Regions from separate parts of the Homo sapiens genome. Here region 2 is linked to region 1. The links come from fine-mapping of genetic effects on gene expression. A gene starts in region 1. The other region holds a variant in brackets. All regions are shown on one strand. Distances are from middle to middle. Region 1 holds the start of IP6K2 (inositol hexakisphosphate kinase 2). Region 2 holds the start of NCKIPSD (NCK interacting protein with SH3 domain).

The links. PIP is the estimated chance that this variant, and not a neighbour inherited with it, causes the effect.
Region 2: its variant is fine-mapped to the expression of IP6K2 in whole blood (TOPMed, PIP above 0.99).

Annotation. Positions count from the first base shown.
Region 1 is chr3:48,712,827-48,728,577 of GRCh38, forward strand. It overlaps IP6K2 (inositol hexakisphosphate kinase 2), which reads right to left and starts at 4,395. Exons shown (of 6, transcript NM_016291.4): 1 at 4,331-4,395. RefSeq lists an enhancer at 1-373.
Region 2 is chr3:48,676,375-48,691,865 of GRCh38, forward strand. NCKIPSD (NCK interacting protein with SH3 domain) reads right to left here and starts at 9,541. Exons shown (of 13, transcript NM_016453.4): 1 at 9,263-9,541; 2 at 6,529-6,638; 3 at 5,974-6,178; 4 at 5,671-5,782; 5 at 4,913-5,406; 6 at 3,685-3,855; 7 at 3,427-3,513; 8 at 3,201-3,339; 9 at 3,003-3,083; 10 at 2,681-2,809; 11 at 2,503-2,595; 12 at 2,190-2,362. The coding sequence starts at 9,433. IP6K2 (inositol hexakisphosphate kinase 2) reads right to left here. Exons shown (of 6, transcript NM_016291.4): 4 at 14,933-15,108; 5 at 13,164-13,339; 6 at 11,629-12,399. The coding sequence ends at 11,899. RefSeq lists silencers at 9,049-9,768, 9,162-9,456 and enhancers at 9,653-10,384, 9,979-10,048, 11,431-11,931, 11,932-12,432. The variant G/T (reference allele first, on the strand shown) is at 11,710.

The DNA.
Region 1 (15,751 bases):
GACAACATGGTGAAAACCCATCACTACAAAAATACAATTACCCAGGCGTGGTGGCAGATGCCTGTAGGCCCAGCTACTTAGGAGGCTGAGGCAAGACAATCGCTTAAACCCAGGAGGCAGAGGTTGCAATGAGCCGAGATCGCGCCACTGCACTCCAACCTGGGCAACAGAGTGAGACTCCGTCTCCAAAAACAACAATAATAATAATAAATATATAAATCTAAGACACTAGGGCACATAAAAATCTGAATGGGCAGGTGAGTAGTTATACCAAAAAGCCATATCCAATGTTAGTTTCATACTTGCAAAGCAAAAATAACCTACTATTCTTATAAAACAAATACTGAAGGGGGATGCGAGATTTTTGCAATCCCCATGAAAGCTGAGACAAGCTCACACGGCCCATGGGGCATCTCATTTGAGTGTGCAGCTTCAGTTACGAAGGCCTGTTGGCCCCGAAGCAGCCCCAACTAAAAGAGCAAGACAAGGTTCAAGGCAAGGAGCCATAACAGGTGGGCTCTTCTAACAGGTAGGGTTTTAAGGTAGAGTAATATGGCCTGGGGAACTTGGGCCACAGCACCCCAGGGCCAGAGCAGGCAACGTGGCAGCCTTCCACAAACCCAGACTTAGGAGATCTAGCCCAGGTTCCAACTGGGCACATTCTCACAAACTAAGTGCAAAAGCAACACTAGAGCCAGATGTCTGCTTCTTGGTAACTAACATGTTTTATTCCATTAAAAGAAGTTTTACTCTTCCTTAGGTTTGGGATTAGACACTCAATTTCGAAAACACATAGGAGTGTCTCAAGTAAGATAGGTGGATACATAGAGAAAGCAAACAACATTAATTAGCCGGGCGTGGTGCCACGCGCCTGTAATCCCAGCTACTCGGGAGGCTGAGGTTGCAGTGAGCCGAGATCACACCACTGCACTCCAGCCTGGGTGACAGAGTGACATTTTTTCAAAAAAAAAAAAAAAATAGTAATACAAAAAAGAAAGAAAAAGGCCAGGTGCGGTGCAGTGGCTCACGCCTGTAATCCCAACACTTTGGGAGGCCGAGGTGGGTGGATCACCTAAGGTCAGGAGTTCGAGGCCAGCCTGGCCAACATGGTGAAACCCCGTCTCTACTAAAAATACAAAAATTAGCCAGGTGCGGTGGCACATGCCTGTAGTCCCAGCTACTAGGGAGGCTGAGGCAGGAGAATCGGTTGAACCTGAGAGGCGAAGGTTGTAGTGAGCTGAGATCTGGCCACTGCACTCCAGCCTGGGTGACAGAGCGAGACTCCGTCTCATTAAAAACAAAACAAAACAAAACAAAAAACCCCTGAATCTTAAAGGGAGCATATCCCAGAAATTTGTTTAGTTTTGTTTTTTTGAGACAGAGGATCCTGCCACCACACCCAGCTAATTTTTGTATTTTTAGTAGAGACAGGGTTTCACCATGTTGGCCAGACTGGTCTCAAACTCCTGACCTCAAGTGATCTGCCCACCTCGGCCTCCCGAAGCGTTGGTGTTACTGGCGTGAGCCACCACGCTCGGCCCTTTCTTTTTCCTTTTTTTTGTGTGTGTGTGTGTGTGTTTTTTTGAGATGGAGTCTCACTCTGTCGCCCAGGCGGGAGTGCAGTGGTGTGATTTTGGCTCACTGCAATCTCCACCCCCTGGGTTCAAACGATTCTCTTGCTTCAGCCTCCTGAGTAGCTGGGATTCCAGGCACCTGCCACAGAGGCTGGCTAGTTTTTGTATTTTTAGTAGAGACGGGGTTTCACCAGGTTGGCCAGGCTGGTCTTGAACTCCTGACCTCATGATCCAACCGCCTTGGCCTCCCAAAGTGCTGGGATTACATGCATGAGCCACCAAGCCTGGCCCTGGCCCTTTCTTTCTTTAAAAGGTAGGGCAGGCCAGGCGCGGAGGCTGAGGCAGGCTGAGGCAGGAGAATGGCGTGAACCCGGAAGGCGGAGCTTGCAGTGAGCCGAGATCGCACCACTGCACTTCAGCCTGGGCGACAGAGAGAGACTCCGTCTCAAAAAAAAAAAAAAAAAAAAAGTAGGGCAGTGATGGGGATAGGCACAGTGTAGATGAAACAAGATTGGCCAGGAATTAGTAACTACTGAAGCTGGTTATGGATGACAGACCCAAATCAACTGTGCATCATCTCGGCAAATTGACTTCTCCAAATCCTGAAGTGGGCTCTAAACTCAATTTTTGGAGAGAAGGACATTTCCTTGCCACCAGAATATACTGTAAAACACAACTACTTCTTATTACTTTTATTATATGGTACACAAATAGGCAAAAACATAATTTAAAAAAACAAAAACATGCTTTAAAATGTAATAACATGAGAATAATCATCTGCTTACTTTCTAATGTATAAGAGTGTGTTCAATTTGTTACCCAAGATTATCCCACTAGGTGAAATAACTTCACTTAAAGGGAAAATTCTTCCCCAGTGCATCCTCTTTATGAGCCAAACAATGGAAAATTTTCACCTCAGTAAGCTGGCCTCAGGGAGGTTCAGGCTCATCCCTGTTGCCTAGATACCAGTGACATCTCAGGAGCTTACAGAAGGCTCTGGCATCCCTCTTGGAAGGGAGACTGGCAAAGGTTCATCAGTCAGTGGTTGCTCCTTCTTTCCTGGCACATTCCACTGCTCAGACAGATACAGGGCTAGCATACAGTGTACCTGTCTGTCACCTAGGAAGCTTTGAAACACAAAAGAAATCTATTATATCTGTTACACTGATTTCTAGATCTCCCAGGTCCCTGCCTTGCTCCCTCCCTACCCAGGCCCTGCATAAAAAACAAACCAAACAAACAAAAAGCTAGTTTCTACAATTGTATTAACTCTAGTCAGTGTTCTTATCCATTTCATTTCTTTCTCTCTCTCTCTTTTTTTTTTTTTTTTTGTAGAGACAGGGTGTTGCTATGTTGCCCAGGTTGATCTTGAACTGCTGGGCTCAAGTGATTCTCCATTTGATTTCTAACAATGCCTGTGAATTCTAAAGTCACAAAGCAGGTAAATCTATCGAAATGACAATGTCAGACAAGACCACAGAAAATAGAAAAAAAATTTTAAATGACAGTTAACAGTTTAACTTTTTCTCAAAAAAAAAAAAAGTTACTAGGCCATCAATTTGCCTATTATGTCAAATGTGATAAAGTATTCATTTGGCCCTTTCTAACTCTGATAGTGGCTAAAGTTAAAACAACACCCTGAAGCTTCTCTTTAAATACTTAACACCCAAGTTACACGATGCAATTATACAAACCCCACAGCAACAACCTATATAAATAAGCATCTTAGTTCACTTAAAATATTACCTGGCTACAACTGCAAATACAGCAAACATTTTAAACACTAGAATTCAACAAAATTACTGTAATCATGGTCCTCTATTAAAAATATCATAGAACCGATGATCTACAACATTTTTGTTACCACGTTCCAAAGTGCCAGTACTTTTTCTTAAAACTATTCAAGATGATTTTTTGTTCTGTGTACATTCTGCTACGGAAATGTTTAATTCCAAGCAGTGACTAGTTCTGTTTTCCCTGGTATTTAAGAGCACTGGATTTTACTGGTTTCTACATTTTATTTTCACTCACTTTTCTGCTAGTGTAGCTTAGTTGATATATGAGAACGAATACAATCCTAAAATGAAATAAGCCATTAGGATGCAAAAGACAAAAGCGGTCTGTAATCAAACGTAAAGAGTGGAAATATCACTATAAAGGTGTCCTCTTATCCATTTAAAGGCATTTTTTCTATAATAAGGTTAAGTGTGTAGATTCCCTCATCGAACACCATCTGACGGGCCCAAATGGCATTCAACACTCAAAATGGCTGCACATCTGCCGACCCCAGGTAACAGTACCTGAGGCGCTGAGCTGACTCCCTATCCAAAGATCCGGGAAGACCCCTCCACCCGCCAAATATCTGGGGAGATCGTGGCCGCCAATGACCTGGGGAGACCCCTCAATGACACCGTAGATCTTGCGCTTCCCAAGACCCGGGGAGATCTCAATGACCAGGAAAGATCCTGCCCTCCCCCAAACCCGGGAGACCCCCTCCAATGACCGGGGAGGATGCTGGACCCCCAAAACCACGGAAATCCCTCCCCCAATGATCAGAAGAAAAACCCTCCTCCCAAATGACCCAGGGAAATCGAATCCACAGGGACCCCGGGAGATTTCCCCCACAATGACCACGGAAGAAGTCTTTCCCAAATAACCTGGGAGACTCCAATGATCAGAGATCCCGTTTCCCAGTAGCCTGAAAAAATCTCCCTCAAAGCTCCTCGGGCACTAGGGCCATAGGACGCGAGCTTTACCTGCCGCCTCAGCCGGGTTCCTCGGCGTTTCCGTCCTATTGTTTCTCTCGCACCAAAATGGCTGCGGCCAGGCCGAGCCCCGCCCCCTGCACCTCGCTCCCGGTGCCCCTCACTATTGGCTCGTCCTAGGAGCTGCGCACGCGGACTGGACAGCCTGAAAGGCGCTGTTGCTAGGGTGCCAGGATTCGCTGCAGCAGCTTCCGGAAAAGGCGGTGACTGGGGGCGGGGCCAGAGAGGGCGGAGCATTGTCCTCCGTCTGGGAGGGTGGGCCGGAGGTCTGACGGGCGGTTGGGTGGATAGACTAGCTGCGGGCCGATGGACAGCAGGATACCTGGGAAACAGATGGATTGACCAACAGTCTTGGTTTGTTCAGTAGTGAGCGATTTCGCAGGATGCAGGAATTTCAATGCTAACACAGAGACAGTCCACTACAAACTGGGAAGTTGGTCACTCTAGCAGATGGACAGAAGACTGGATGTGAATAGACGGAAAGAGGGACAAAAGAGTGCCTGTAGACGGTGGACAAAGAAATGGTTATAGATACAGACAGACAGATTATTAGATATGGAAGGGTGGACAGAGAAGTGGCCATAGAGTTTTCTGGGGACTGGTGGATGACCCAGTGCCCAACCCAGCTCCCACCAAGCACCACACCACAGGGCTTGTCTGAGGCTCATTTGTCTTGGGCCTGTGTTGGACAGAAGGGCTCTCACCTGAGTGAATGTCAGCATAGCTGTGAAAGGCAAAGGAGAGGGTTAGTGCCACTGAGAATGGGCAGAGCCTCCTACCTGATCTCTGCTCTTTCTGTAAAGGAGAACAATGTTGCAGCCCTGTGTACTGGGCATTTGCAAAGGTGTAAATTCACTCATACACTTTTTAATTCAACAAGTATTTATTAAGCACTTACACTCGGTATTGGAAATACAGCAGTGAACAAAAAAGGAAAATAAATAAATATCCCTGACCTTATAACAGTGGATAGGAGAGACTTCTGTGAGCAGCTCCTCTCACCTTAGCATGTGGTTTCCAGGGCTCCATGTCCTCCTGGTTTCCTCCAGTCTCACCAGTTTCTCATCTGTGTGTTTTCTCTTTGTCTACACTCACTCTTCCAAAATCTTATCCAGGCTCATGACTTCAAATGCCACCTACATGTCAATCACTCCTAAAAGTGTTTGTCCAGTCCAGACCCTTCCTGAGTGGCAGATTCACTAGTCCCACTGTCAACTAGACATCTGCACTCTGACTTCCAGTTGCTGGCATCTCAAACGCAACTTGTGCTACCCTAACACTGGCTCATCCGCCAAACCTACTTCACCCCACTTTCCCCAAATTGAGTGATAGCATCTCAGCCCTTCTTATTGCTCAAGTCAAACACCTCAAAGTACCCCTTGACTACTCTCTTTCCCATCTATATTCAGTGCACCAGGAAGGTCTGCTGTCTCCATCAGCATCATCTACCCAGAATGAAATCACTTCTTGCCACCTCCATACCTTTCACTGAGTCCAAACTGCCACCATTTCTCTTGAGTGCAATGTCACAGCTGCCTCCTGGTCTCCTCTTGCTGCCCCTGATGCCTTCAGTCTGTTCTGCACACATCAGCCTGTGAATACATGAGTCAGATCCTCCCATTCCCTGCTCAGAACCCTGGAGTACTTCCTCCCCAAGGGAAAACCAGAGACATCAGGACCTTCATAATTCCCTATCACCCCCCCGACTGTATCTCCCCGGCCAGCTTTTGGCCTTGCTGCTCAATCTCCCAGTGTTCCTCACACATCACACCCCATGCACTCTCCTGCACAGTGTATGAGTTATGGTTGTTCCCATGCCTGGATTGCACAGATTTCCAAAGAGCTGCACCCCAGCTCTCAGAGCCCCTCATTTCAGACTGTAACCTGCCCCACTCTGCCCCCAGCACTCAGTACCACCTTTATCCCCTCATCCTGGCTCTATATGTTTCCATAGCAGTTACCACCTTCTCAGAATTTTTTTTTTTTGAGACATAATCTTGCTCTGTCACCCAGGCTGCAGTGCTATGACATTGCAACCTCCGCTTCCAGGGTTGAAGCGATTCTCATGCCTCAGCCTCCCAAGTAGCTGGGATTACAGGCGTGTGCCACCACACCCGGCTAATTTTTCTATTCTTCAATAGAGACGGGGTTTCACCATGTTATCCAGGCCAGGCTGGTCTCAAACTCTTGGCCTCAAGTGATACACACTCCTTGACCTCCCAAAGTGCTGGGATAACAGGCATTAGGCACCGTACCCGGCCGCTTCATAGCAGTTACCACCTTGGGGCCGCCCTAGCATTAATTCACTCTTCCATTCCTTTCACAAGTGCTTATCAAGGTCTGACTTAGATTAGACACCAGGGATGCAGCGTGAATAAACACAGCAAGAATTCAAATGATTTATTTGTCCGGAGGTGGGTGAGAGGCAACAGACAGTAAAAGAACAAATAACATAATTATAGGCAGAGTGACTACAATGGAGAAAAGGAACCAAGCAAAAGTGCAGAGTATGGTGTTTATGTCTAAGGCAGCAGGAGAGGTAGATCTGAGAAGGGAACATCTGAGCTAAGATCAGCCCAAAGGCACTGGCTGAGCATGGAAAGATCTAGAGGAAGCCATTTCTGACAAAAGCACAGCAAGTACAAAGACCCCGAGGAAAGAAGAAGTTTGATATTTTGAGGGAATATGAAAAAGCCACTTGGGTCTAATGGAAGAAATAGCTCAGAACTTAAGGGAAAGATGCACAGAGCTGAAAACGATGAAGGAATAGACCACAGATCTGGGGGGCAAGTCCAAGAATTCTGATGTGCAGACAGCAGGAGTCCTAAAAGGAGAAAAAGGGACAGCTGAAATGGAGGCACCAGCTAGTCAAACTACAGAAGAAAACTTTCATGACATGAAGAAAACTCTGTGTCAGCCGGGTGCAGTGGCTCACACTTGTAATCCCAGCACTTTGGGAGGCTGAGGCAGGCAGATCACTTGAGGTTAGGAGTTTGAAACCAGCCCGGCCACCATGATGAAACCCTGTCTCTACTAAAAAATACAAAAATCAGCCGGGCGTGGTGTAGTCCCAGCTACACCTGTAGTCCCAGGTGTAGCGTGGTGTAGTCTCAGTGCACCTGTAGTCCCAGCTATTCCGGAAGCTGAGACAGGAGAATCACTTGAACCCAGGAGATAGAGGTTGCAGTGAGCCAAGATCACGCTACTGCACTACAGCCTGGGTGACAGAGCAAGACTCCCTCTCAAAAAAAAAAAAGAAAGAGAAAAGAAAAAAGAAAAAGCTGTGTGTAGATGGGAGGGGTTGGCCACATTCCCAAGCAGGATGAAAGAGAAAGACTACAGTAAAATTCTTAAACTCCAAGGAGAAAGAGACCATTATACAAGCTTCTAGATAGATAAAACAAATTACATACCAAGGAAGAAGGGCCAGCTGGCCTCAAACTCTTACCCGTAACACAGGTGCACTATCTGCCCACCTAGACCCAGCTAAAGGACAGTTGTCATGCCTGGAGAGGAACAATAACCATAAATGGAATGAGGAAAAAATAGTAGAATGTCCAAATTACCAAGGGGAAACATTAAATGAATGACAGTTTAATCAAAGACAGCAAAGAGAAAGAGGAAAATATTAGGTTGACCCTGTGAAACTGCTAATATTTAACTGTTTAAACCTACAAAAACAGTAGTTTCATATAGGTCAACTAAATAAAAATATAAAACTACAAAGTAAAAAATAATAAACCTAGGCCAGGTGTGGTTGCACACGCCTGTGAGCCCAACACTTTGGGAGGCCGAGGCGGTCGGATCACGAGGTCAGGAGATCGAGACCATCCTGGCTAACACGGTGAAACCCGGTCTCTACTAAAAAAATACAAAAAAATTAGCTGGGCGTGGTGGCGGGCGCCTGTAGTCCCAGCTATTCAGGAGGCTGAGGCAGGAGAATGGTGTGAACCTGGGAGGCAGAGCTTGCAGTGAGCTGAGATCGTGCCACTGCACTCCAGCCTGGGCAACAGAGCGAGACTCCATCTCAAAATAATAACAATAATAATAATAATAATAATAAACCTAAATTATGGGGCTGGGCACTATGGCTGTCACCTTTAATCCCAGCTACTCTGGAGGCTGAGGCAGGAGGATCACTTGAGCCCAGGACCTGAAGTCCAGCCTGGGCAACATAGCGAGATCCTGTGTCTTTAAAAAAAAAAAAGGAATTTATGGAATGAGCAAAACTAAACATCTTTATCACAGTAAATAAATCCTGAACTCCCTTTAAAGGCATAGAGACTGGATTAGAGAGACAAAACCCAGCCACATGCTATTTATAGGATATTTGAGACCACACAAACAGAAAAGGCTGAAAAATAAAGGAGTGGGCAGAGAGATCAGGCCAGCACAAACTAGAAGAGAACAGGAGTACATGACATGAGAAAAGGTAGGATTTAAGGTGATAGGCATTGAGCAAAATAAACAGGGCCACTGTCTAACATAGAAACAGACAATTTATGAAACAGACATGGCCAGGCACTGTGGCTCACACCTGTAATCCCACCATTTTGAGAGGCCAAGGTGGGCAGATCACTTGAGACCAGGAGTTCAAGACAAGCCTGGCCAACATGGTGAAAGCCCATCTCTACCAAAAATACAAAATTAGCCGAGCGTGGTGGTGCATGCCTATAGTCCTAGCTACTTGGGTGGCTGAGGCACGAGAATTACTTGAACCCAGGAGGTGGAGGTTGCAGTGAGCTGAGATCACACCACTGCACTCCTAGGTGACAAAGCAAGACTCTGTCTCCAAAAAAAAGAAAAGAAAAAAGAAACAGATATAAACTATACATAAACGATATAATAATAAGTTCAGGTACACCAGATATGCAAAACATTTTTTTAAATCAGGAACTAGACAGGGATGATGGCAACACTATTATAACACATTGCCTTAGAATTCTAGCAAATATTTCTAAAGCATTTGGCTTTGGAGGGAAAAAAAGAATCCTAACGAATATAATAAGAAAAGAAAATGGCATGTTATAAATATTGGAGAGAAAGACATTAAACTATCTCTTTAGTTAATGCCGTGGTTACAAATCTAGAAAATCCAAAGGACTTTCTTGAAAATTATTACAATTAATAAGATAAAATGTTAAGGTGATAAATACAAGAAAAATACATTAAAAATAATAGCATTTGCTACAAATTGGCCCCTAGAAATGAATAAAAATGAGAAAAATATTTAATTTCAAATATTTAAGAACAAAAATATAAAATATTGTTTTTGTTTTTGTTTTTGTTTTTGTTTTTGAGACAGAGTCTTCTCTGTCGCCCAGGCTGGAGTGCAGTGGCATGATCTCGGCTCACTGCAACCTCCTCTTCCCAAGTTCAACCGATTCTCCTGCCTCAGCCTCCTGAGTAGCTGGGACTACAGGCGTGCACCACCACTAATTTTTGTATTTTATGTAGAGACAGGGTTTCACCATGTTGGTTAGGCTGGTCTCATACTCCTGACCTCAGGTGATCCACCCACCTCAGCCTCCCAAAGTGGTGGGATTACAGGCGTGAGCCACCGTGCGTGGCCAAATGTTCTTTTACATGTCTTTTGGTGGACACACCATTTGTTTCTGTTGCATATAACTCAGGCTATTTGGATACTTCCACCATCATCCTTGATGTGTTGGATTCTGTCCTCAGGCTTATGGCCCTTGCATTGAAAGATAGCTGCATCCTTTCCAAACATCATATCAGTATTCAAAGTAGGAGGTAGGCTGGCACCAGCCACATCTATCCCCTTTATCAGGTAAGCAAATGCTTTCCCAGAAGCCCCAGCAGACTTCCATTTATTGTTCATTGACCAGTGACTCAGGCTTCTCAGGCTCACAAGGAGGCTGAGAAGTCAGAGAATGGGTCAGGATTTGTCTATTACTTGGGACTGGACACTTACCCTCCTGGACAAAATTGAGGTTTGTTAGCAAAGAAGGAGAAAAGGGTATTAAGAGGCAATGGACAGAACCTCACAACATGAAAAGACGTTGAAACTCATCAGAAGGCAAGGAATGGTCATCAAAGTAAGCAATATAGCAACGACAAAACTATGGAGAGAATAGGACTTCATCAGGGTGAAAGTATTGGAGTGTACCTTGCCACTGAAGATCTTTTATTTACTTCAAGAGAGATTTAAGGGTGGCAGTTTGAGATAAAACCAGGAGATATCAGTTATGATGGTTTGGAGGAAAAGTGTAAACTGGCAGTGTAAACAAGGGCAGGGCATTTATGAGTAGTTGAGAATGGTGAATAGGAGTATGACTACACAGAAGATAGTAGGGATGACAAGTTTTTGGGGCATAGTCCAAGTAGTGGGGGTGACTGCGTATAGCCCTGTTGCAAAAAGTAGGGTAAGGATGAATAGACTTAAAAGAATGAAGGGATGTATTAGGCTCATAAGGGTTATTACTGTTTTTCAGAAATGCGAGTGAGTTTAAGGGAAGTAGGGGAGAGTACTTCCGACTTCCAGGAGGAAGAAGAGAGATCAGGCTGGCTGGCTGACAGACACAGCTTTATTCTGGAATGGTGAACCCAATGGGGAGGGTCCTGCAGGCGGATGGCAGTTGGGGTGCTATAGATGACTAAGTAGGGTCCAGTCCATCGAGGTTGTAGAGTTTGAGGGGTCAGATTTTTAATAAGAACTGATCGTCCAGCTAGGGTGTCTTTATATGTCTGGGAATCTGGAGTAGGCAAGAGAAGATTAGCAGCCTGGCGAATTTCCTGTCTAGCCTGCTTGAGGACTGGAAGATAGTCACCTAGAGGGCTGGTGTCTGGGACGAGGCTGGGGCTGAACAAGAAAGTACGTCCATATAAAAGTTTAAATGGACTGTGCCCTGTAGCATCTCGAGAACAGGCTCTAATTCTGAGAAGGGCAACAGGTAAAAATACTGTCCAGTCCTTTTTAAGTTGAAGGATGAGCTTAGTGAGGTGTGTCTTTAAAATACCATTAGTCTGGCCAGGTGCGGTGGCTCACACCTGTAATCCCAGCACTTTGGGAGGCCGAGGCGGGCGGATCATGAGGTCAGGAGATCAAGACCATCCTGGCTAACATGGTGAAACCCTGTCTCTACTAAAAAAAATACAAAAAATTAGCCAGGTGTGGTGGCGGGCACCTGTAGTCCCAGCTACATGGGAGGCTGAGGCAGGAGAATGGTGTGAACCTGGGAGGCAGAGCTTGCAGTGAGCAGAGACTGGGCCACTGCACTCCAGCCTGGGAGACAGAACAAGACTCTGTCTCAAAAAAAAAAAAAATACCATTAGTCCATTTTACCTTTCCTGAAGATTGAGGACGGTAAGGGGTGTGAAGGTTTTGCTGAATATCAAGAGTCTGAGAAACTGCTTGGGTGATATGACTAATAAAGGCCAGTCTGTTATCGGACTGTATAGAGATGGAAAGGCCAAACTGAGGAATTATGTCTGACAGAAGGGAAGAAATGACCGCGGTGGCCTTTTCAGACCCTGTGGGAAAGGCCTCTACCCATCCAGTGAAAGTGTCTACCCAGACCAAGAGGTATTTTAGTTTTTTGACTCAGGGCATGTGAGTAAGTCAATTTGCCAGTCCTGGGCAGGGGCAAATCCCTGAGCTTGATGTGTAGGGAAGGGAGGGGGCCTGAACAATCCCTGAGGAGTAGTAGAACAGGAGATAGAACACTGAGAAGTGACTTTTTTGAGGATAGATTTCCACAATGGAAACAAAATAAGAGGTTTTAAGAGACGGGCTAGGGCCGGGCGTGGTGGCTCACACCTGTAATCCCAGCACTTTGGGAGGCCGAGGTGGGCAGATCACAAGGTCAGGAGATTGAGACCGTCCTGGCTAACATGGTGAAACCCCATCTCTACTAAAAACACAAAAAAATTAGCTGAGCGTGGTGGTGGGTGCCTGTACTCCCAGCTACTGGGGAGGCAGAGGCGGGAGAATGGCGTGAACCCGGGAGGCGGAGCTTGCAGTGAGCCAAGATCGTGTCACTGCACTCCAGCCTAGCCAACAGAGCGAGACTCTGTCTCAAAAACAAAAACAAAAACAAAAGAGATGGGCTAGCGGCTTGTAACCTACATTAAAGAGGTTATGAAATGATGACAGAATAGAATGGGCCTGTGAGGCTGGAAGGAGATATTCTTCTTGGTCTAAGAACCACTTGCCTTGTGTGGGAAGAGACTGACAGGTGGAAGTTTTAGTGGGAGAGTAGGTGGGAGTGACTGATAAGAGGAAGAAAAACTGGCCACGAAGGACAGAAGTTAGAATGCTAGCTGCTTGTTTAGCTGTCTTATCAGCATAACTGTTGCCTTGAGCGATGGGATCTGATGCCTTTTGATGGCCCTTGCAGTGAATGACTCTTTGGAAGTAAAGCAGCCTTGAGAAGAGTTTTTATTAAAGAGGCGTTAATGATGGAGGACCCTTGCGTAGTGAGGAAACCTCTTTCAGCCCATATAACAGCAATGGTGGTGCAGGATATGGAAGGCATATTTAGAGTCAGTATAAATATTGACGTGTAGTCCTTTTGCAAGAGTGAGGGCCCGAGTTAAGGCAATGAGTTCAGATTGCTGAGAGGTAGTGGAGCTGGGCAGAGTGGTAGCCTCAATGATAGATGTGGAAGATACTATAGCATAGCCTGCCTTTGCTGGTGAGTGGCAATTAGGCCTGGTGGAACTGCCATCAATAAACCGAGTATGATCAGGGTGAGGAACAGGAAAGAAGGAAATATGGGTAAATGGAGTGAATGTCAGGTGGATCAGAGAGATACAGTCATGGGGGTCGGAGTGGTATCCGGAATAATGTGGGAGGCCAGATTGAAGTCCAGACCAGGAACAATGGTAATTGTGGGAGACTCAACAAAGAGTGAGTATAGCTGAAGGAGCCAGGGAGCAGAAAGTATATGCGTCAGGTGTGAGGAAGAAAATAGATTTTGGAAGTTATGAGAACTGTAGAGAGTGAGTTGACCATAGTTTGTGAATTTGAGGGCCTGTAAAACTATTAGGGTGGTGGCAGCCACCGCACAGAGGCATGATGGCCAGCTTAAAATAGTAAGGTCAATTTGTTTGGACAAAAAGCCCACAGGGTGCAGTCCCAGTCCTTGTGTAAGAATTTTGACTGCACAGCCCTGCACTTCAGCTGTGTGTAATGAAAAGGGTTGGGATGGGTCAGGCAGAGCTAGTGTGGGAGCAGTCTCTAGAGCTGTCTTTAAGGAATGGAAACAGGAGTGGGGAAAGGATTTAGGATCTATGGGGTCAGCTAGGTTTTTCTTTGTGAGTTTATATAATGGTTTTGTTAGGATGGCAAAACCACGTATCCAAAGGTGAAAGTATCCAACCATGCCCAGAAAGGAAAAAAGTTGTTGTTTTATAGAAGGGGTTGGGGTTTGGGAGATTAGCCAGACATAATCACCAGACATAAACACCATGTGTGTTTTTATGAAAAATTATGCCAAGATAGGTAATTGGGTGAGGAAGAAATTTGGGCTTGACTGAAGTAATGGGGGCTGTCCCTGAAGCCTTGCGGCAGTATAGCCCAGGTAAGTTGCTGAGGCTGATGGGTGTCAGGGTCAGTCCAGGTAAAAGCAAAGAGGGCCTGGGACGAGGGGTGCAGGGGAATAGTGAAAAAGTGTTTCTAAGATCAAGAACGGAATAGTGCGTTGTGGAGGAAGGTATTGAGGACAAAAGAATGTATGGGTTGGGCACCACAGCGTGGATAGGCAAAACAATTTTGTTGATAAGGTGCAGATCCTGAGCTAACCTGTAAGACTTGTCTGGTTTTTGGACAGGTAAAATGGGGGAATTGTAAGGAGAGTTTATAGGCTTTAGAAGCCCATGCTGTAGCAGGTGAGTGATAACAGGCTTTAACTTTTTTAAAGCCTGCTGTGAGATGGGATATTGGCATTGAGTGGGGTAAGGGTGATTAGGTTTTAATGGGATCATAAGGGGTGCATGATTGGTCACCAAGGTAGGAGTAGAGGTATCTTATACTTGTGGATTAAGGTAAGGAGACACAAGGGGAGGATGTGAAGGAGGCTTTGAATTGGGGAAAAGGGCAGCAATGAGGTGTGGCTCTAGCCCAGGAATAGTCAGGGAAGTAGATAATTTAGTTAGAATGTCTTGACATAATAAGGAAAGTGGGCAGGTGGAAATAAATAAAAAGGAGTGCATAAAAGAATGTTGTCCACGTTGGCACCAGAGTGGGGGAGTTTAAGGGGTTTTGAAGCTTGGCCATCAATACCCACAACAGTTATGGGGGCAAGGGAAACAGGCCCTTGAGAAGAAGGTAACGTGGAGTGGGTAGCCCTTGTATCGATTAAACAGGGGATGGACTTAGCCTTCACTGTGAGAGTTACCCGAAGCTCGGCATCCGTGATGGTCCAGGGGGCTTCTGAAGTGATCAGGCAGCATCAGTTTTCAGCCGCTAAGCCGAGCAGATCTGGGAAGGAGTCAGTCAGAGAGCCTTGGCCCAGAGCTTTAGGGACTCTAGGAGTGGCTGCCAGGCAAGATGGGCAGTCTGATTTCCAGTTGGTCCCTGCACAGATGGGACACGGCTTGGGAGTAATCCCAGGCTGTGGGCACTCCTTGGCCCAGTGGCCAGATTTCTGGCATTTGAAGCAAGATCCTGATGGAGGAGGTCCTGTAGGAATGCCTGACCACTGTGGTTTAGGCATTTTGAAGTTCTTATGTGCTGGAGGTGCGGCTGGATTTTGTCTCACAGCAGAGGCAAGTAATCGTAACTCAGAAATGTGTTGCCGTCTGGCTGCCTGCTCTCTATTACTGTACACCTTGAAGGTGAGATTGATTAATTCCTGTTGTGGGGTTTGAGGGCCAGATTCCAATTTTTGAAGCTTTTTTTTTTTTTTTTTTTCATGTCAGGAGCTGACTGGGTGATAAAATGTATATTGAGAATGAGACGGCCTTCTGACCCTTCAGGGTCTAGGGCTGTAAAGTGTCTCAGGGTTGCTGCCAAATGAGCCATGAACTGGGCTGGGTTTTCGTCTTTACCTTGGGTAGGTTTTTTTTTTAAGTTTATCGTAATTAACAGCTTTGTATGCTGCCTTTTTAAGCCCTTCAACTAGGCAGGAAACCATGTAATCTTGCCTAGCTATACCTGGGGAATCTGCCTGATAGTTTCATTGGGGATCCGCTTAGAGAACTGCTCTACTGCCTTCTTGGAGGTCTGGCTCATGACACCAGCAGTTGTCAGCATGAGACTGGGCTAGAGAAAAAACTCTTTCCTGTTCATGTGGGGAGAGGGTAGAAGTTAGGATGACATTTAAGTCACTCCAGGTTAAATTGTACGACAGAGTTAGATATCGGAATTCCTGTATATATTTAGTGAGGTCTGATGAGAAAGAGCCTAAAAGCTGGCTGATTTGGGAAAGGTCTGATAGAGAAAAAGGC
Region 2 (15,491 bases), 37 kb before region 1:
ACTTGACTCCTGTGGTGGCTCACCATCTCCAACACATCATCCATCTCTCTGTGCTTGCTGGATCATTCCCTCCGGCTCAGAACATGCACCATCATCCGTACCATTTTTGTTTTTGTTTTTTAAAGAGACAAGGTCTGGCTTTGTTGCCCAGGCTGGAGTGCAATGACACAATCATGGCTCAATGCAGCCTTGACCTCCTGGGCTCAAGTAATCTTCCCACTTCAGCCTCCAAAGTAGTTGGAATTACAGGTGCATACCACCATGCCCAGCTAATTTTATTTTCTACTGTGGTCCATCAGGTTATACAGAGGTCTCACTATGTTGCCCAGGCTGATCTTGAACTCATGGACTCAAGTGATCCTCCCACTTCGGCCTCCCAAAGTGCTGGGATTATAGGCGTGAGCCACTGCACCTGGCCAACATCCCCCATCTGTCACCCAAGCTGGAGTGCAGTGGTGTGATCTTGGCTCACAGCAACCTCCACCTCCCGGGTTCAAGCAATTCTCCTGCCTCAGCCTCCCAAGTAGGTGGGATTACAGGCTCCCACCACCATACCCAGCTAATTTTTGTATTTTTCGTATTTTGTATTTTTAGTAGAGACCACTTTGACCAGGCTGGTCTCGAATTCCTGACCTCAAGTGATCCACCCACCTCAGCCTCCCAAAGTGCTGGGATTACAAGCATGAGCCACCGCGCCTGGCCAACATCCCCCATCTTCAAAACACTCTCCCTGGCCAGGCACGGTGGCTCACACCTGTAATCCCAACACTTTGGGAGGCTGAGGCAGGTGGATTGCATGAGGTCAGGAGTTCAAGACCAGCCTGGCCAACATGGCGAAACCCTGTCTCTGCTAAAATATAAAAATTAGCTGGGTGTGGTAGTGGGTGACTGTAATCCCAGCAACTTGGGAGGCTGAGGCAGGAGAATCACTTGAAACCAGGAGGCGGAGGTTACAGTGAGCCACGATCGTGCCACTACACTCCAGCCTTGGCAACAGTGGGAGACAAACAAACAAACAAACAACAACAACAAAAAACCCCCAAAAAAACACTCTCCCTATCCCCATGTCATCTCTCTCCAGCAACCTCCCTTCCATTTTTCTCTTCCCCTTAATAGAAAATTCACAAGAGTTGTCTCCATTTACTGCTTCCAACCCTCCCCTCATTTCTACTCCCCAATAACTTCAAGCTCTCTCAAACTTTCATTCAGACTCTCCTCCTTGCACCCCACTGACACTGCTTGTCAGGCACCACTGACCTCTGTGTGGTGAATCCAATGGCCAACCCCAGTCTCGCTCAGGCTCCTAACGGTATAGAGATGGCTGATCGTCTTCCTCTAAACATGTGGCTTTGGGCTCCTGCTTTCTTGGTTCTCTTCCTGGGTTTCTCCCTAGTTGTTTCAGCTGTGCCCAGGGCTGCAGCCCGAACTTCCCGCTGACCTGCCTATCTATCTCATTTCTGAGGCAATCACATTGTCACAGGCTTCCCATCGTATCTCTGCATAGACCACTCCGAAATGTCTCTCTAGTCTCAACTCATTCCCCACTGCCTCCCTGATGCCCTCGGTACCTGGGTGTCTAGCAGATATCTCCTCATTCTTGACACATTCAAAACACGACTCTCTATTTTCCCCCAAGAAGTTCTCCCAGCCTCCCCAACTTCAAAAATCAGCACTTCATCCATCTAGCTGCTCAAGATAAATCAAGTGGCAAGCCCTGCCAGATCCACTTACTAAACACTCCACAGCTGGCCTCTTCTCGCCACTGCCACTGCCACGACCTATCCCATCCCCACCCCATCCATGCCACCTGGACCACTGAGGCTGCTTCCTCCCTGGCTGGCTTCCACTCTGCTGGCATGCAGTTGATTCCATGTGGGATGTTAATCACATCACATTCCCCGGTCCTGAGATCACAACCTCTTGCAGCAGCCTCCGAGGCTTTGTGTAAACTCCATCCTCCATGCCTCATCTCCCTCCACTCCCTCCTCTCCAGCCTCCTCCAGCCCCACCACCTCCAGATCACCTCATGGCTGGCTCCTTTGGGTCTTGGTGCACCTATCATGGCCTCCTACACTTACCTGGCTCCAGCAGTGGCCTTGCCCCCTCATCTCCACTCAATGTCATGCCCCCCACCATTTTGTTTCAGTTTCCACACAGTGACCCCCGCTGCTGCAGCCACCTCCAGGCACCTTGTCTCCTGGTGACAGGTCTGCGATGTGCCGCACAGTGATGTCAATGAGAGCCATCATGTCTGTGTGGTAGAAGATGGCAGCTGTGGCCGGGCTGCCAAACACGTCCTGCAGGAACTTGAGGACAGAGTGTGGTGGCTGTGGCTCATGTTTGAAGATGCGCACAGGGTCATCTAGGAGGCAGGGGTCATAGCGGTCAGGGTGGACCTTGTGGGGATCCCAGAGTCACCCCAGGGGGTTACGGGAGTCATTGCAGGGGTCATGGAGTCACAGGGCATGGAAGTGGTACCCGCGCAGATTCCCGGGCCCTCACCCCCTCTGTTCAGGAGCAACAACAGCTTCTCGGAGAAGATCTTGACATTGGCGTGTTTGCTCAGGGCAGCCATGATGACATTCTGGTCAGCAGCTAAGGAAGGACATGGGTATAGACAGGGTGCTGAGCCTGAGAGCCACCATGTGCTCAGCCACCGCCCAGCCAGGCCCCACCCCACCTGGCAGGTGCAGGTTGAGAGCCAGAAGCAGGTTCACGCAGAGGTCCGGCAGCTGCTCTGTGGTGTCCAAGGGCAGCCCATCCTCGACGATGTTCAGTAGGAACTGGGCGAAAGGCGTGCCCAGGTGCTCTGGGAGAGGGGCGCACAGAAGTCTGCAGCCCCATTCCCCTCCGACCCCCGCACCACCCACCCTTCCTGGCTTTCTGTGAGCCTTGGGGATAGCCTCTCCCTGCTAGGCTGTGTAGTCAGCAGGTCCCAGGCCCTCGGGCAATGGGCCCTGGCTTAGGACCTGTGATCAGCTGGTCGGTTACTGCATTCTTACCATAGTGTGCATAGGGCACTGCCTCTCCCATGGAGAAGACCATGGCCAGGATGAGGGCAGAGTAACAGAGTTTCTGGTGGTCTGGGGGGGACAAGGCAGGCAGTCAGAGTCCCCAAAGATGGCAGGAAACCCCAGCAGATGGCAGGAACACCCTCCAGATAGCAGGAAGTTCCCTCCTACCCCGCCCTCCAGCCTCACCCTGCGTGTCTGTCTGCATGTCCCTCGCCAGCTCTACAGGCAGCACGGATGACACAAGCGTGGAGATGATGGCTGCATCCAGGCTGCACATGGCGCCAAAGCACTTGAGGAGCAGCAGCCGCAGTGATGCTCGGTGTTCCTGGCAGGGAACCCTGCGTGCTCAGTGCCTGGAACTCCCCCACTATCTAGGTCTCTCCATTACCCCTCCCCTCCATCCTGCACATACCATTTGGTAATAGGCCACCAAGGCCAGGACAGACTCGAACTCGTTTCTCTTGCACATTTTCTTGCAAACTTCAGGGTCTGCATCAGTCTACAGAAATGAGGAAGTGAGAGCATCAGCCACCATGAGCGGAGCTGTGCAGCCGCACAAGAGAGGGCTGAGCACATATGTGTAGGGGAGACTCCTAGCACTGTGAGGGATGCTACAGGGTGGGGGCCACTGTTCCCCATGTGGGGTATGTGTGTGGGACCCCACCCTTACCAGAATATGCAGCAGCTCCTCTAGGTAGCAGCGGATGACACCCTCATCCTCATATAGTGCCCAACTGCGCTGCTGGGCGTCGTCCTTCCGGCGAGCCAGGTCTGCAAAGATCACCTCCAGCCTCTGCTGGTCGTGGCAGACCTGCCCTGAGGGCAGGGCCATGCTGAGGTCCTAGAGGGAGAGGGCAAGGCATGACTCAGCACACTCCCTGCCCTCACCATCTCCAGGGAGCCTCCAAGGCCTGGAGAGTCCATCTGTGGACTTTTACTCCATGAACTCAAGTCCCTCCTGGCCCACACTGGACAGGAGGCTCAACTCCAGTCTTGATGACCTCCCAGGACAGGAGTCAACGGGAGACTCATCTGTAGGGGGTTTTCAACAGCTCGCCTCTCATCCCAGACCTGGATAAACACCCCCAACTAGGAGGGCCATGAACTCTGTCACTGCCAGAATGTGACTCTGAGACCTCACTCTCCCATTCCACACAAAATGGCACAGGCCTGTCATCTACCAACTTGCCACATTTTCCTTGAACCCTGCTGACCAGGCACTAGCTGTTGTGCCCAGCACAGCCAAGCCCATTGGCCCACTCCCCAACACCCAAACCAGAAGTGTAACAGGAACCATGGAGCACTAAAGAGGGACCTTTGGTCTGTCTGACCCCCATCATGTATGCTGGGCTCACTGCCCCCATCCTGCTCATGAGTGCCAAGGATCCCACCCATCCCATGATGCCCACACACCTCACTCCCTCTCATCCATGTCAGCACCTAGGACTCCATCCCAGCTCTCCCAGCACCCATGTCTCTTACTGCCAAGGTCAGCAAGGCACTACCCTCACCCACGCCGTGTCCATTCCTTCCCTGCAGCCAGACAGAACTCTTGGCCACCCGCATGTCGTCTTATCTGTCACCTGCCCCAGGTCTCACCTCCTCCTACAGCACCCACTCCCTCACTCCCTGTGTTCCAGTCCTGCAGGCCTTGTTCCACTTCCTCCCACAAGCCAGGCTCAGTCCTGCCTTGTGGCCCTTGTCCAGGCTGCGCATCTGCCTGGAATGCTTGTCCTTCCTTTCTGCTTCAGAAATCAGCTCAACGTCCCCAGTGCCCAGCACAGTAAGAGCTCAGAGCCAGAGCTTGAGAAATACCTGTAATGTACAGGCTGGACAAGTGTGTGACGGTGGGAACAGGGTGGGTAGCAGGGTGGCCCTGCTGTGCCGCCCACCCTCACCTTGCCCTCTACGAGTGAGAGGAGGACCTGCTCCATGACTGGTGAGCTGGCCGGCACCGAGGCCTGGATGTGACCCACTATGATGCCGATGGCCACCCGGCATAATTCGTGGCTCAGGCCAGTGTTTCTCCGCACCAGCTCCATCAGCTCGGCCCCAATGGTCCTGGGCACAGCCGCCTCAGCTGCTGCCTTCTCCTCTGTGGTCCCCAGGCTCAGTGTACCCAGGGCTTCCAGGTCATCAGAGGCTGAGGTTGTACCAGTTGCCACTTCTTCTTCTGCAGGGGGTTCAGGTGCTGATGCCTTGGAGGGAGGGGGCTGGACTTGGGACACGGTGGTGTGGGTGCCTCGGCGGGGCACAGGTGGGGGTGTGGGTGAGCAGCTGGAGCCTGGTTCAGATGGGCTGGAGCTGGTATAGAGCGTGTCCAGGGAGGTGCTGCTGACTGAGGAGCCGCTGGACACAGAGTTACCCCCGGAGGGCATGGTGTTGTGGCCACCTGCGAGCAGTGAGTAGAAGCTGGGCCAGGGCAGCCCCCTGGAAAACCATACCCTTCACAGCCCAGATCCCCTGTCCCCTAACACAGGGCCTAGTTTCTCTGCTAGGCACTGCCTCCTCACAAAGCCCAGAGCCCCTAATTGCCCCAAAATGGGAGTCCTGTCCTCTTCCCCAGCTTAGAGCCTCCATTTCCCTGACACAGGCAGCACAACCATTCCAAGCATAGGGTGCCTCCACCTGAATTCCCCTAACCCTGCCTTCTTACCACTCCCAGAGGCCATCAGGGCCTCGCGGTCTCGGCGCTTCACTGGTGGGGGCGGTGTGGTGGGTGCTGCTCGGCGAGGCTGTGGTGGGATCTGGGAAGATGGAAGTGGGATCTGGAAGATGGAAGTAGGATCTTGGAGGACAGACTGACATCTAGAGCGTCAGCGAGGCTCGGGCCCTGAGCCCTGGCTGTGGGCAGGACTATGGCTCTGGGCCGCATCACTCCTGAGTGGACCCCTTGAGCCTCTGGATGAAGCCTCAAGTTCCACCCACCTCCCTTCTCCACGATGTCCTCCCCACACACCTGGTAGAGGCCTCCATCTGCCCCAAGATGCTCAGAACTGGGTAGGCTGTGCTGCCGCTCGAACCCAGCTCGACACACCCCATTGGGCTGCCTGGCTGCAGCAGCATCCAAGTGGTGGTCACTGGTTGATGAGGTCATAACTGCAACACTGGAGGCTGAAGGGCCTCTGCGTGACAGGGTCTCTTTCCGGTGGTGGATCAGCTTCCTGATGGAAGGACAGGAAGACTATTGGGGGGTTGCATCTCACAGCTCAAAGTCCTCATATGCCCCTGTGGGATGCTGGGACCCCATAGCCCAGGCCCCTCAGACATCCCCATCTCCTCCATGCTCCACCCCAGCCTACAGTACCCCATACTATCCTCAGTCCTGCGCTCTGCACACCCCTGGTGCTCACTGAAGGACCCGACCCCACCTTGCTCACTGGGAGGTGCCATTCCCCCACCACCCTTGCCAACCCTCGCATTTCCCAGGCCCACCTGCCCCATGACACTCATTGAAGAACCCCACCCCACCATGCTCACCGGGAGGTCCCACTTCACTCCCCTCAACACTCACTGGAGGACTCCACGCTGTTCCAGGCTGTACTTGCCACCATCCCGCATGGCTGTGTTGTGTACAGCCTCGATGGCCCGGTCAATGGCCTGGAGGACATCCTGCTCCAGGCCCTGGGGGGGGCAGGGGACAGCAGTTAGACCTGAAGGCCAAACGGAGGTGCTCAGCCCAGGCCCAGCCCGAGATAGAACCCAGGGCAGAGAACCAATATAGCGAAAGCCTGGAATGCTAGACATAGCACAAAAAGTTGAACCAGAATATGGAATGGGGTTCTCAAACTGTATCACTCAGGGAGCTGAGGCACAGGGTGACCCCCATGCTGCCACATTACATATTAGGTCCTGATCAGGATTTTACCCCACAGCAAGGCTCTTGGCTAAGATGTTTCTGAAAATCAGAGGTCTAAAGCAAAAACATAGCCCAGGGGCTCCCAGCTTGCAGCCAGGAGCGCATACCTCGTCTATCCCTGGTCTTGGCTCAGAGCCCAGGTTGAGATGCCAAACAGGAAGTCTCCAGTATCTGGAATCCTTAATACATCACTCTGCATCTTGCTGATCTTTCACAAAACCAAGGTCATACCCCAGAACAGCCCTGTCCTTGTAAGGGCCCTCTGTAAGCCCTGGGAGCTGAGAATGGGTCAAAGGGACTTGCCCTCCCCAACCCTGCTGCTGGCCCTCATCCCCACAAGATGTCTCAGTAAGCTTCCAAACCCACCCTGGGAAGCAGTTCTGTGTTTGTGGCAAAGGATAAACATGAGAGAGGGGCCTAGCCCCTGTTCCAGGCTCTGTACTGCCATCCCCAACATTCCAGGGATCCAGTCTACTCTGCCTATCTGACATGGGGAGTGTAGGGTAGCAGCTATCAAACCAGCTACCCCCAGCCCTCCCCTGGCCCTGGCACACGTAGTCCATCAGGCTACATAGGAGTCCCGGAGCTGAGATGAACTCATTCCACCATGGGTTTGAGAAGCTTCCCTGATGGGCACAGACAGGTGGGCACAGAGGTCAGCAAAGCCCTCCAGGTGGTATGAGGTGTGCCAGAGTGCAGGGAGAGGAGACAGGGGGATAGAAAGACATGAAGACACACACACACACACACACACACACACACACACACACACAGAGAGAGAGAGAAAGAAAGGAATGGGGAAAGAGAGGAGCTCAGAGAGGAACGGAGAGGCAGACAGAGGGAAACAACGCAGAAAGAAACAGAGCCAAAGCCAGAGTGTGGGGGGAGCCGGAGGAAGAAACAAAAACACACACATGTGGAGTCGGAACGACACAGGCAGAGAGGCACAGAGTCGCAGCAATCCAGACAGAAAGAGACACGCAGAAAGAAACAGACAGTGACAGAGAAGATGGTAGCCTCTCTGCCCTCCCCAAACACCTTGCCCCACTGGTCCTGGCTGGCGGCAGGGGACTCACAGGCCCTTGACCTATGCCCAGTAGGGGAAGAGACAGGACTTTTCCTCAGAGGCCTTCAATGAGACCCCATTCCCAAAAAGGTTGGGTCTGACACACAGCAGCCATGGTGTCCACGGCCCCCACTCCCACCCCTGGCACTCCTAGATGGGATCACGCCAAGGGTCTATGAGGAAGCCCCTAGGCCCCCAGGGCCCATCCTTCCTGGTAAGACCAGATGACACTTCCAAATTTATCCCGTTATTTCTGTCCTGAACTGGGCTGGGACAGGATGTTTCCTAAAGGATAAGGACTAGGACGGGGCGGGGGTGTCTGGCACAGGCCCGGCAGCTCTGGGCCCTTCTTCCCCCTGTGGTCAGAATAGACCAGCTGGAGATACGCACCCCAACCCCCGCAGCAGGGCTACTCTTAGGGAAACAGGAACTGGGACTGCAGCTTCCACTGGAAGGAAATGGGGCCACGATCAGACCAGGAGAAGCTATAAGAACTCACTTCATCACAATGTGAGCAGTCCCCACTCCAGGCTGGGAACAAGTAGGGATGGAACCCATTTTCAAAGCAAGAAAGTTTGAGAAGTCAGGGTTGGGGAGTGGAGCAGACAGTGTCAGCAGGGGCATGGGTCCTTGGTTCAAATAAGGTTGGTAGAGACTTAAGAAGAGCTTAGAGGGTGGCTGAACACAGGCTAGTGAAAGACACTGAAGTACCAAAGCTTGGGTGTTACATAGGGGATGGAGGTGTCTATGGCTCTAGGGTCCAAGTTGGGGGGTTGAGGACCTGGAGAATGGCTAGGGAAACAGGTGGTGTCCAAGGTGGTCCAGGTCTCAGTGGTGGCTCCAACGGGGGGCAAGGCGCGGGGTTGGGGGAAGAAGGAAGGGAGGGAGGGAGGGAGGGAGGGAGGGAGGGAGGGAGGTTGGTTGTGGGGTCCTAGGAATCCAGAGAAGGGGCATATTAAGGATCTGGGGTCTCAGGGATTTGAATAATTGGCCAGGATTCGGTGGGGCTCAGGGTCGCCATTCAGATGGCGGACTCGATACTGAAGGGTCTGGGGTCCTGAGGAGTCTCAGTCCCAGAGTTAGGCTTTTGGTCGATCGGGAGTTGGTCTGTCAAGGGCCTGGTCTTTTGTGGGTGATGCTGACACTTGGGGTCTCAGTCCCCGTGGGTCCGGGGGTCTCAGGGTCAGGTTCTCAAACTCCCTGTCTGATAGAGGTCCTGGCCTCGGGTCCCGGAGAGGGTGGGGTCCCTGGGTCGGTTCCGCGGGGCTGTGAAGGGGTCCTGCCCCAGGGGCGCGGAGGCCGGGCGGGAAGGGGCGCACTCACCTGCAGGCGGCGCAGGTAGGCTGGCGGCACGTAGCCCGTCTCACCACTGCGCGCCCGCGCGGCCAGCCACCAGTGCGCGCTGCTTCGCTCTAGCACCAGGAAGGTCTCGCCCGCGGCGAACGCCAGCGCGTTGGGCTCCGCCGAGCGGAACGCGTACAGCGCGCGGTACATGAGGCCGGGCAGGGCAGGTGCAGGGAAGGTGGCAAGGGCTGCGGCGCCACAACGCCAGGCCGGGAGCGCCGAGCCGCGCCGCGGTTGTCCCGCCCCGTGACACACTACGCAGGCGCGCGCGCGCCCGCCCGCCGAAGCCCCGCCCCGGGCTGTATCGTTCCACGCATCGGAGAGCAGCGCCCCCGCGCGGCCCCAAGAGGTGCGGCGGGGCTGGGGTCGACAGCTCGCTGTCTCCTCTGGTCCCTCCCGGCTCCAGGCCCCTCATCCCCGGACACCGCACCCTCACTCCTCACCCCGGCCTCAGTTTCACCCGTCCAGCCCTCTGCTCCCTTTCCCCGCTTAAGTCCGAGCGCTGCGTCCCGTCCTACCTCCCGGTGAAAGCGCGCTCCGCTCGTAGCGGGTGCGCCCCTACCGCCCTGGGGCAGTGGGTCCCATCTACTAATTGCAAGGACGGCGACCTCGAAAGGATGATCTTGCTGATCCGACACTTGGAAGCCCCCGCGGGGCCCGGCTCTCGGTGTGTCTAGGCCTCACCACCTGTCTTCACCGAGTGCCGGTGGTGGCCAGTGGGGAGCAAGTGTGGGGAGAAGGGGGCCACAAAAGCAGAAACCAGGCGGGGCTATTCCCTGTCTAAAGCCCTCCCATCTTTGCTCCCCACCCCTACTCCTCCTCTCTCTTCAGCTATGGCTGGTTTTCTCTATATTGGGCCTTTGCATATTCTGTTCCCTCTACCTGGGACAATTTTCCCTTCCCTCTCCTATAGTATTTGTCCGTCAAGCTCCCACCCCCATCAATCGCTATCATCTTGCTGTGTTTTATTGTCTTTATAGGACTTAAGATTTGCGATGCCCCTTTCTGAGAGCATAGAGGAGGGCTGAAAGAGGGAGTGGGGTACCACGGTGGCCTTAAGAGCCTATTTGATCCACCCAGCTTTCCAGTCAGCCCAGATCTCCAGATATATGAAATCCGTGTAATAAGAGTGCCTGGAAGACCCAGGGAAGAGGCCCTCAGGGTCCTGGAGAGACTGTGGCTGAGAATGGTCCAGCTACGCTCCACAGGAAGCCCGAGCCCAGGAAGCAGGAGGCGTGTACAGGCCAGTGTGTGCAAGTTTTCTATTTTTATCTGTATTTATTTTTTGAGACAGGGTCTTGCTCTGTCGTCCAGGCTGGAGTGCAGTGGGATGATCAAGCTCATTGCAGCCTTGATCTTCCAGGCTCAAGCCTACTGTCTCTGGGACTACAGGCATGCACCACCACACTCAGCTTTTTTTTTTTTTTTTTTTTTTTTTTTTTTTAGTAGAGACAAGGTCTTGCTATGTTGCTCTGGCTAGTCTCAAATTCCCGGACTCAAGCAGTCCTCCCAGTGTTGGGATTATGGGTGTCTGTCTGACCCAGTTGCCTATTTTTAGGCCTAAAGTACATAGGCCTAGTGTGAGGTTCAGGTGAGGGGTAGAACTGCTAGAAACTGACATCCAGACCCTGCCTTCTCTGCACCAGGTCTGGCTCTTCAGTTCAAGACCTCTCTTGGCCCTTCCTCCTCCCAGAAGCCCTCCTGGGGCAGGGCAGAATCTCGGGGTCTGTGCTGTCTGGGACTGCCTGAAGAATAAGACTGGTGAAATTGCAATGGGGACTAGGGCTGGGCAGGAGTGGTGACAGGTGGTGTGGCCAAGAGGACCACCCTACCTGCCCAAACACGCCTTTTTATGGTACCCTCCATCACCTGGGCCCCTTTACAACACAGTCCATGGCTGCCAATGGACCAGACCCGAGGCTAGAGACCCTAGTATTGCTTCCAGGACATCTATCACAATAGCCAGCCAATTAGCTGCTGCCAGTGGCATAGGAGGGATTAAAAGCTGGACCCAAGGTTTGGATCACCTGCTATCTAATTGGCTTAAGCTGCATACGGCCCATGAGAAGACCTGTGTCAAGCGTCATGTGGTTTTTGGATAGAGGTGCTGAGACACTTAGCCAGCACAGACGCCAGAAGGTATGTAACTTGGGGATCCTTTCTGGGTAACCTTCAGGATGCTGGGTTGGAGACTGTACACCATGCCAAGAGGTTGTGCTGACTTTAGGATCCATGGAGTGGGGGTGGCAGCCAGGAGAATACTGAGCCAGGGAGGTGGTCACAGCATGTGGTGAGGCTTGGGAGGGGGACTGCCTGCTCTTGGAAAGAATGACAGGAGCACTATATACAATAAACAAAAAGATTTGTATTAGAACATATACACTCAGGGAAGAAAGAGGTATCATCATCAAATGTGGAATGTTGAA[G/T]AAATAGTTAAAATAAATAAAGACTCCAAGCACAGCTGGGACTGGCTCAGGCTGGGGCTCACAGAGGCCACTGCACATCAGCTCCAGGCTGCAGGAGCCACCACCTGGCCATACTGGCTTCCTCCCTGACGCAGCACAGCTGTGCCTGGGACACAGAGTCGCTCTCAAGTACTGGAGCAGCTAGCAAGCTCACTCCCCACTCTCCTCACTTATCTCTGTGACAATGTCTATCAGGCTCTGGAGCCCGAAGATATAGCCAGCATCCTGGCCCTCATGCACCACGGTGTCCTCGCCATACAGCCTGCAGGTGGTGTGTGCAAAGTCGATCATGCGCACATCTACAGAGCTGGCGCCGATGGGTTTGTAGGCATAGGCACCAGCAGACTCATCAGCTGATTCCTCTGACAGGTCCTCCAAATCCTCAGCATCTGAGTCCAGGACCACTTCGGGCCGCTCCTTGCCATCATAAATGACCAGCAGGGAGCTTGAGTAGAAGCGGTAGGACTCCTGTCGCTCCAACACTGCCTTGAGCTCAGTCAGCTTCTTGAGCACAGGGCCCAGGAGTTCACGGCGCAGGTACCGCCCATTGTGGAAGAACTGGAAAAGTGCCTCCTTGAAGCCCTGCACCGATAGCTTCCGTCCATGGTACTTGTTCATGAACATGAGCTGCCCACTGCCTGCTTGGTACACCTGTAGGAGAGAGACCAGCAAGTCAGGGGCTGAGGGCCATCTCAAACCCTGGACCCCGGGCGGGGGTGGGGTGGTGTGGTGGTGGCGGCATGTGACAGCCCAGATCAGATAAAGTACACCAGTTGCACATGAGCCACTGTCCACTATGCTCTCTGATCAGCCCCCACCTGGGATGCAGCCATCCAACCTGGGTTTGGTCATTGTGCCCCAGCACCCCACCTCAACATCTGGGTCACTGGAGAGGACCAAACCCTTTTGCCTTCCTCCCTACTACTATCCACAGATTCTGGACTCAGCCAACCAGACCAATCTGAGAGAGGATCATGCAGGCATGCATGCTTTCTTTTTTAACCAAAAAGCAACAGACTCATGTAGGGTCAAATCTGGAACCTTTTTATTTTGAGACAGTCTCGCCGTCGCCCAGGCTGGAGTGCAATGGCGTGATCTCAGCTCACTGCAACCTCTGCCTCCTGGGTTCAAGCTGTTTTCATGCCTCAGCCTCCCAAGTAGCTGGTATTACAGCCGTGCACCACCACGCCCAGCCAATTTTTGTATTTTTAGCAGAGACAGGGTTTCGCCATGTTGCCTGGGCTGGTCTCTAACTCCTGACCTCAGGTGATCCACCCACCTTGACCCCCAAAGTGCTGGGATTACAGGTGTGAGCCACTGCACCTGGCCTGGAATCTTTTGAGCAAACAGGACTATACCAGGGTGGGGAAGTGACAGCCACTGGATGCCCTAGCCAGCCCTAGCATCCCCCTCACCTGCATGCCACACACACGCACACCAATGACTGCAGATGTGCTCTGCTGACATTTTCGGATCTGGTTGGCTGCCTTCTCCTCTGAAGCATCATCACCATGTTGTCGTGTGCCCATCTTGAGGTCAAGGACACAAGGCACCTCGTAGCGGGAAGTCAGGTTTTCCAGTAAGATAAATTCTGAGTAGTTAAGAATAATACCCCCAAAAGGAAGTGCTACTGCATGGGTCCTTGGCACTCTCAAGGTACAGTGCCTTGATGCAGTGACCCAGAGAAGCCTGAACCCACAGGAGACTCCATTAGTCCTGCCATCCCCGACACAGGGAGTCCAGAGCTGACTATAAAGCTAAGAGACACCTTTACTTCTTGTCAGGGAACTGACGTGGAAGCAGCCTGCACCCGGACTCAACAGAGGCCTAGGCTCTTCCTGCCTGGGAGACACACATGCCATCTTCTGAACTCTTAGCTAAGTGTAGGACTAGGGTCCAAAAACAAAGTCCTCAATTACAAGTAGAACATCAAGAAAGTTCAGTAAATCCTGTAGCCTTAAATGTGAACTGGAAATATCAGTATAAACTCATGAAAATACTTTGCTCTTTAAACGTCTGCTTCTCAGCTGTGTGCACTAAAAAGGTCTAGAAACAATAACCAGAAATAATGAGTGTCTCTGGTGCACAGACCATTGACTCATTATTTCCCATTCAAGGAATCAGTGCTCCCAACAGCAGAAACTGGTAAACTATGGCCCAGTGCTTGCTGTTTATGGCCTATAAGCTAGGAATGGTTTTTACATTTTTAAGAGACCAAAAAATAGATAAAAGGCTAGGCGTGGTGGCTCACGCCTGTTATCCCAACATTTTGGGAGGCTGAGGCAGGAGGATCACTTGAGCCCCGGAGTTTGAGACCAGCCTGGGCAACACAGTGAGACCTTACCTCTACAAAGGGGAGGGGAGGGGAGGGGCAGGGAGGAAGAGGGCTGGGCGTGGTGGTTCATGCCAGTTATCCCAGCACTTTGGGAGGCCAAAGCAGGTGGATCACCTGAGGTCAGGAGTTTGGATCAGCCTGGCCAACATGGTGAAACCCTGTCTCCACTAAAAATACAAAAATGAGCCAGGCGTGGTAGCGGATGCCTGTAATCCCAACTACTTGGGTGGCTGAGGCATGAGAATCGCTTGAACCTGGGAGACGGAGGTTGCAGTGAGCTGAGATCACACCACTGCACTCTAGCCTGGGGGACGAGCAAGACTCTGTCTCAAAAAAAAAAAAAAAAGAAAAAAAAGAGAGAGAGAGGAAAAAAAGAAAAGAGAAAAGAAAACAAATATTTCCTTATGCACAGCTCATGTCCCAGTGGTGGTCTGGTGAACCAGGACTGATCAGGTCAGTCTCCTCACCCAAACACCCCAGCCCTTGGCAGGTGAGCAATGTTTTCAGACTTCTGAAAAGTCTGAAAACAGGGAGCAGCTCCTTGCCCTCTTCCTCTAGGTTACCTAGGCTAAAGCCCACCTGATGCAAGCTGGCCCCTTCATGAGGCACCCCTCACCTCCCAGAAACCCATTATACCCCACTCCTCATCATCTGCACTCCTAGGCCAGTAGCTGCCCTGAGGGAAGTGATTATTTGCCCATAATTATCATACAGGTCCTGGAATAACCCAGGTAGGAGAAACTCAACCATGACTATAAAAACCTAACTTCTCTCTCCAAGCTCCAAGGGACTTCCTCATTTCCTCTCCTCTTACCCTCAAATGCAGAGATGCCCGTGAACAAAGGATACTGTACTGGTTCCGATGCTTTGCATTCTCCTTCATTCTCTGTAACTGTTGCTGGTGACATTTCATGCTCCAAGGGTTATAGTGTTTAAGCTGGGAACTTATATTCCCCTTCTTCTCTACAGTGTAGTACAAGACTTCAGATTTCTTTAGCCACTCAAATTCTTCTTCTAACTTATGGCTATAAAGAGATAAGGACCAATAAATCAGTATGTCTTATCAGAATTCAGAAGGCCGGGCATGGTGGCTCATGCCTGTAATCCCAGCACTTTGGGAGGCCGAGATGGGCAGATCACTTGAGATCAGGAGTTGGAGACCAGCCTGGCCAACAGGGTGAAACCCTGTCTCTACTAAAAATACAAAAATTAGCCAGGCGTGGTGGTGTGCTCGGGAGGCTGAGGCAGGAGAATCACTTGAACCTGGGAGGCAGAGGTTGCAGTGAGCCTAGAAGATCGTGCCACTGCACTCCAGAGCCTGGGCAACAGAACAAGAAAGACTCAAAAAATAAATAAATAAATAAATAAATAAATAAATAAAATCCAGAAACTTTCTTTTTTTTCTTTT